Homo sapiens: one gene and its partner. The protein of the gene in region 2 purifies or fractionates together with the protein of the main gene of each other region. This does not show direct contact. Each region holds a gene or a part of one and is shown on either strand. Other genes may lie near its edges.

Region 1 (3,500 bases), on a different chromosome or scaffold from region 2:
TATTATTTGTTTTTGATCTAAATGTCAGTATTAGTGTGACTGGGCAGAAAAAGCTCAGAAATAATTACAAATGGAGCTTGGAGGCCATAAAGCCCAGTGGTAAAAGCAGGCCTGCATGGGGAGCCCGGCTCTGCTTTTACCACTGGGTAAAAGCTCTGCCCTCTCTGTGGACTCCACGCTGGGGATTCAACCACTCCATGCAACCAGCTCAACCATAATAAGATCTACTATCATATGCTTATCATGAGGCTGTTGAGGGCCCCCATATAGTAAGTACTCATTGAAACACATTAATTAACTGGGCACGGTGGCTCACGCGTGCAATCCCACCACTTTGGGAGACTGAGGTGGGAGGATTGCTTGAGCCCAGGTGTTCAAGACTAGCCTGGGCAACATAGCAAGGCCCTGTCTCTATTTAAAAATAATAAAAGGCCAGGCGCGATGGCTCACGCCTGTAATCTCAGCACTTTTGAGAGGCCGAGGCGGGTGGATTGCTTGAGCCCAGGCAGTCGAGACCAGCCTGGCCAACATGGCAAAACCCTGTCTCTATTAAAAAAAAATTAGCTGGTCATGGTGGCACACGCCTATAGTCCCAGCTACTTGGGAGGCTGAGGTTGGAGGATCATCTGCGCCCAAAGGTTAAGGCTGCAGTGAGCCAAGATTGCACCATTATACTCCAGCCTGGGCAACAAATTGAGACTCTGTCTCAAAAAATAATAATAATAATAAAATTAAAAATTTTAAAAACCAAAAAAAATTCAACATAATCATTTAAGAAAGTACTAAACTGAGAGTTTAAAATATTTCAATTCTGTCACTGAAAATTAATATAAGGAGGCCAGGCACAGTGGCTCACGTCTGTAATCCCAGCACTTCGGGATGCCAAGGGAGGCGGATCAGTTAGGTCAGGTGTTCAAGACCAGCCTGAGCAATATGGTGAAACCCGTCTCTACAAAAAATACAAAAATTTAGCCAGGTGTGGTGCCACGTGCCTGTAATCCCAGCTACTCAGGAGGCTGAGGCACGAGAATCGCTTGAACCCAGGAGGCAGAGGTTGCAGTGAGCCAAGATCACGCCACAACAGAGCAAGACTCTGTCTTAAGAAACAAAAAATTACTCTAAGGAGCCTGTCCATGGAGTGGATTGATGGTGATGTTAGCTTCTCAGTTGTGTCACTTAACAGCCTACTCGCTGTCTATCTTGGGTAGAAAACAAAAGAAAGACTCAGCAGGAAAACAGGAACAGAAAGAGCTGCCGCTCGCCAGGGGAAAAGGACCCTTCCCCGCCGCTCTCCACGCAAGCATCCACAGCACTGGAGAAGGCAGTAGGCCAATAATCACGATTCCTACAGGACTCAAGGACTTTTACTTTCATTTTTTTGAGATAAAGTCTCTGTCACCCAGGCTGGAGTGCAGTGGCACAATCTCAGCTCACTACAGCCTTGACCTCCTGGGCTCAAGCGATCCTCCCACCTCAGCCTCCTGAGTAGCTGGGACTACAGGCATGCACCCCTATGCTCGGCTGATTTTTTGATTTTTTGTAGAGAGGGGGTCTCACTATGTTGCCCAGGCTGGTCATGAGCTCCTGCGCTCAAGTGATCCTCCTTCCTTGGCCTCCCAAAGTGCTGGGATTACAGGCATGAGCCACTGTGCCTGGCCTCAAGGAGTTTTAAATCCACCAACAAAACAAACCTTCTCCATCGTGCTGCTAAGACAACGGCTGTGTTCACACTGTGAGGATGGTGACACCAGAACATCATGACTTGCTCCTTCCTGAGTGCCTGACTCTATGTAACTACCGGACCACAGCCCTACTGCTAGCTGAGGGGGGGGCCCCTCCACTCAGGCCTTTGAAAACCACCTGTGAAAAGAATGATTCCTGGTTCCCAGAGCACCACCTCTGACCAGGAGACTGAGGACCAGCCATCTACCCACGCTGTGGACTTCTGGCACACCAACTACGCCCAGCCCGGCGATGCCAAGGGCCAGGTGTTGCTATTTTAGATCCAGCTTAAACAAAGGGATCCAGAGGGAGCTGTGAGGAGCTCAGGATTCCCTCGGCTCTTCGACCCTCTCCACCTACCTGTTCAGCACAGTCTACAGCCGTGCGCTGCCGCTTGTTCAGCACCTGAACTGACGCTCCGTGGAGCAGAAGCAGCTCTACCACGAAGACGTGCTTTTCAATCACAGCCTCGTGCAGCGCTGTGTTGCCCTTATTGTTAGAAGCGTTAATGGAGGCCCCGTGCTGGAAAGAGAAACCACACGATCAAAAGGAACGCTACGAAACGTCAGCATGGAATCTGGCTGTGGGTATACAGGTATTCGCTATAAAACACATTGTTTTTTTTATGTCTGAAAGTTTCCTTAAAATTTGGGGAGGAAAAGTAATACTGAGAAAAAAAGATTTATAGACAAAGAGTTCGCTGCAGCATTTATCCTAATAGCAGAGAAAACAGAAGCCACTTAAATGTACAGAGCAGAAACAGGTTCAAAAAAATCACTATGGTATATCCATAGTTATGCAACCATTAAAAATCAAAGTTTGAGTAAATAAGTTTCTACATTAAATAACATTAAGACAGAAAACAATACTTGGGGCCAGGCACAGTGGCCCATGCCTATAATCCCAGCACTTTGGGAGGCAGAGGCAGGTGGATCACCTGAGGTCAGGAGTTCAAGACCAGCCTGGCCAACATAGTGAAATCCCATCTCTACTAAAAAAAAACACCAAAAAACAAAAAAATTAGCTGGGCATGGTGGTGGGCGCCTGTAGTTCCAGCTATTCGGGAGGCTGAGGCAGGAGAATCGCTTGAACCCCGGAGGCAGAGGTTGCAGTGAGCTGAGAGTAAGCCACTGCATTCCTAGGTGACAGAGCGAGACTCCATCTCGGAAAAAGAGAAAACAATACTTGGCGAGGCCCCGTGGCTTACACCCGTAATCCAGCACTTTAGGAGGCCAGTGCAAGAGGATCGTTGGAGCTCAGGAGTTTGAGACCAGCCTGGGCAACATAGTGAGACCCCCATCTCTACTAAAAACAAACAGCAAAAACTAGCCAGGTGCAGTGGTATGTATCTGTAGTCCCAGTTAGCTGGGAGGCTGAGGCACCTGAGCCTGGGAGACTGAGGCTGCAGTGAGCTGTGAGGGTGCCATTGCATTCCAGCCTGGGCCACAGAGCAAGACCTTGTCTCAAAAAAAAATTAATAAATAACACTGAAACTATACACATTTGTCAAAAGTCCACCATAATGAGTTTCCCTTGAGTAGCACAGTCATGGACAGGTTGGTTTTTCCCTACTTCTTTAAGAAATTCTAATGCATTCACATAACCTTTTTCAAGAGCAGCAGGGACAGAGGCGGCCACTCAGCCCATGCTCAGGTAACAGCGTGACACATTCCCGGTCGGTGAGGTGAGACCCAAACCCTTGGCAAAAGCAGCGTCGGAGCCCTTGAGACCGCATCCCAGATGCTGGGGCACCATCTGTTCCCATCGGAGAACCCCGT
Region 2 (3,500 bases):
CTGCTTTTGAAAGTTGTAGATGATTTATCTTCAGTAAAATATACATCTGCCTTTCATGTAGTAAATAGAGACTTCTTTTCAAAAGAAAGCATTCCAAAACTCATTAAGAAACAACAACTGCAAAAACATAAACCCAGGACCTAAATTTGATTTCAGCCATCATGGTGGGACAACAAGTCACCAAACTTGTAAGCAAGTGTCTATGGTCCCACTGGGAAGTCTTAATGGCCTCTGCTTGTCCCTTCAGCTTCCAAATCTATAAAATTAATTAATGAACCAGGCTCAAATTAATCATAGCATCCGGGTGCTGGGTAAATTCTTGAAATTTATCAGATCTTGAAATTGGCAAAACACTGCACTCCTGGCAAGCCGAGTGGCACAGATAAATTGGAAAGTACAGGTCCTAACACATCCCAGTGTTCCAAGGTGGAAAAGCAGGTTTGCTCTGTCTGATTATAGAAGAGATCATCATCCTTTTTCTCAAAGGTAATGGCTACATGAGCATCTCAAACCTGCAGCTCTTCAGTCTAAAACTGAGCTCCCCAAATTTGAGCCTTAGCACTGGGCTCTCCAGGGGAGGGTTTGTTGAGACTTAGATTGCCACGCCCCATCCCTAGTCTCTGATTCAGTGGACCTGGGGTGGGGTATGAGAATTTGCATATCTAAACAGTTTCCTAGGTGATGCTGAGGCTGATGGCCAGAGAACCACCGGCAGAAAAACACTGGTCTAAAAGCAGGGCTTTCCTAGGGAGTTTTCTATCATGAAATCTGGAAGTCTGATCTCAAGCTCCTAACCCTCCCTAGGACCACAGCCTCCCATGTATGGTCATGGCTTCCACCTCCTTCCTCGGACTGAACCTTTTCAGTCCATGTCATAACCTCTGGCCAGGTGCCCTCCCCTCTCTAGCCTCCCTGTCCATCACCTTTGCTCTGGCTTCACTCTCCTGCCAGGGCCAGGCCCCCATGGTCATTTGTGTTTTGGTCTGTGCTTACTACCTAATCGCCTAGCCATTGCCATGCAGGCCTTGAAATTGCCCATCATTTTCTGCCTTCTTTATTTTCATTTCCAGGATTCGAAACTCACTTAAACCATGCTGTCAGGGGCCACGCCAAGCCCATGCTTCTAACTCAACACCAACACCACTGCTCAGCAATCCTTCTACTCTTCCATAGCACATCCCCTACCTTGGCAGCCTGAACCATGTCTAGTCTCCTTGGGTTTCCCATTCTCTTCCCTACTTCCCCACCAAGGACTGAGCCTTCACATAAACCAAGAAGACCCAAGTCATCAAATGTGACTTCTTTCCACCCGCATGTATTTCCCTGCCGATCCTTCCAACTTGACTTCTCCACTCCTCCCTTCTAGGAATTTGTGTCCCTCCTCCTTAGCAAGCCTATCTAATACATCCATCTACACTATTAACCCTCTCCCTCTCAGACCCGACTCTATCTTTGTAAGACATTTGACCTCTTTCCCTTGGCTCCTTCACACTGACACACATTCACACACACACGTACACACACTCAAATATGCACACACATTTACACACATATGCACCCACTTTTCTTAAACAGACTCCTTCCTTAAACCTCTGCAAGCTGTTTGGGGGAGTCACCATTATGGAGTGTCTCCAGACTGCTGCTGTAGCACGAGGATGGAAGAAGCTCAGATCCAGAGACCCCGCAGGCCTGGGTTCCAGACCTATCTCTGGCTCTTCCCACCAGTGCAATATTGGGTAAGTTATTTAACATCTGAGCCTATCTCCACATCTGCAGAAACAGGAACACTAAGCACCACTTACATGGTTGCTGGGAAAAGCAAATAAAATACTGGATGTTGACGTGCTTTATAAACTCTGACCTAGCCCCTAATGGCCTTTTAACAAACAAATAAGAGGCTCTCTCTGTCCGACTTCTCCAGGCTTCTGGGCAATGCTTTCTGAAATGACTGCTCTAAATGTTTCTGTGTCAAGAGCAGTTGCCCTCACACAGTGGGGGCCAGAAAAATATGCGTTCATTTGAAATGAAGGCCAGAGAAAGTATTCTGACTTCCTTTTACCAAGAAGGAAAAATCAGATGGGAAAATGTTACCAAGTATTTTTTGCCTCCAGCACATTCTTTTAATAACATTCTCTGGTGTGCAGTAATTAATTTTTAAGCATAACCAGCCCCGACTTAAGCAAGTGATATTTCAACTGAAAATGATTCTTCCCTGCCATCTTTGATTTTCTTCTCAGTCCCATTCAGACAAAGAGAACTCACTTTTTTAACTCGGGTGGTCAGATCCTGGACAAAGAGTTTCCGAAGGTTGTGCAGTGTCTGCAATTCTCTAGACTGGAAGAGATTTTTAAAGGCCACTTAAGTGCAGCAATTCACTGAATTTATGACACATTTGGCACCAGATCATTCCCCCGACACTTCCCAAGCCTGCCATGGACGCCGCTGGTGCACCCCCTTCCCTGTGACACCCCCACCCTGACCATGCCCACCCCTGGACCTAGTGTCATTACTGGAGCACCTTGAGGTGCAGAGCCTGAGAACCCAGACCACAAATTGTAAACCAGAACAAAGCCTGCCCATCTGCTCACAGTGGAACCACACATTTCCTCACCCACAAAAATTCAAAGGTTTCCTCACAAAAATTCCTACTGGGCTATGTTGTATCAGGGTGAATTCCTTTTTTCTTTTTTTTATTATGTAAATGTTACAATGTAATACCAACAAGCTGAAATGAAAAGTTAGCCACAATATCTCACCGTAACTGACTCACATTTTTCCTGTCTCCACACCTGCTTCAGACGCAAGTCCACACACTTGCTTGTTTTAAGTCACTGAGCTTACGGATGAGGCATTTCATGGACTTTCCTCCTGGGTGGCCCTGGGCAAGTTATCTAACCTTTCTGTGCCTCAGTTTTCTTATTGGTAACATGAGAATAAAAACAGTGGTTGCCTTATCATTGCTGTCAAGATCAAATGAGATGAACCTTATAATGTTCTTAGAACATTTTCTGGCACATATTAAGTGCCCAATAAAGATGACTAGTATGAATTTATTGATGCATATTTCATAACATAAAAGCCATTTTTTCATTAGGATTGTATTGCTTCCTTTTATTGTTGTTGTTAAAACTTTCACTGTCATCTTGGGGGCATTTTTTCCCTTCATTTTGGATTATTTTCTACAAATGAAACCTTAGGAATTAGATTACTGAGACAAGAGCCTGAGCCAAATCTGGTGATCTTTGTTAACAAGATCAGAAGATCAAACATTTCTGTCTGCTCAAGTCTCCATGTATTTACCATAGGAAATATGATCAGTTCCTTGCAAAATATTTTCCTATAGAGGAAGAGGAGAGAGCTAAATTCTGCATGCAAACTTTGTCTAAATTGACCTACTTTAACACAGAATTTCAAGGGATGCAACTCACACACGCTCACATCTAAAAGGAAGAAACAGACTATAAAGCTACGGAAACACTAAGTTTCTTGCAATAAAGGTT

The links. Proteins that work in one complex are often made in the same cells at the same time.
Region 1: the proteins of KIF5C (region 2) and ANKRD27 purify together in Homo sapiens (co-immunoprecipitation; one study listed by IntAct). This does not show direct contact.

Annotation. Positions count from the first base shown.
Region 1 is NC_000019.10:32,602,181-32,605,680, forward strand, and holds part of ANKRD27 (ankyrin repeat domain-containing protein 27), read right to left. Parts: intron 2,245-3,500; coding exon 2,083-2,244; intron 1-2,082. UniProt on the Homo sapiens protein: May be a guanine exchange factor (GEF) for Rab21, Rab32 and Rab38 and regulate endosome dynamics.
Region 2 is NC_000002.12:149,004,227-149,007,726, reverse strand, and holds part of KIF5C (kinesin heavy chain), read right to left. Parts: intron 2,335-3,500; coding exon 2,263-2,334; intron 1-2,262. UniProt on the Homo sapiens protein: Microtubule-associated force-producing protein that may play a role in organelle transport. Has ATPase activity. Involved in synaptic transmission. Mediates dendritic trafficking of mRNAs.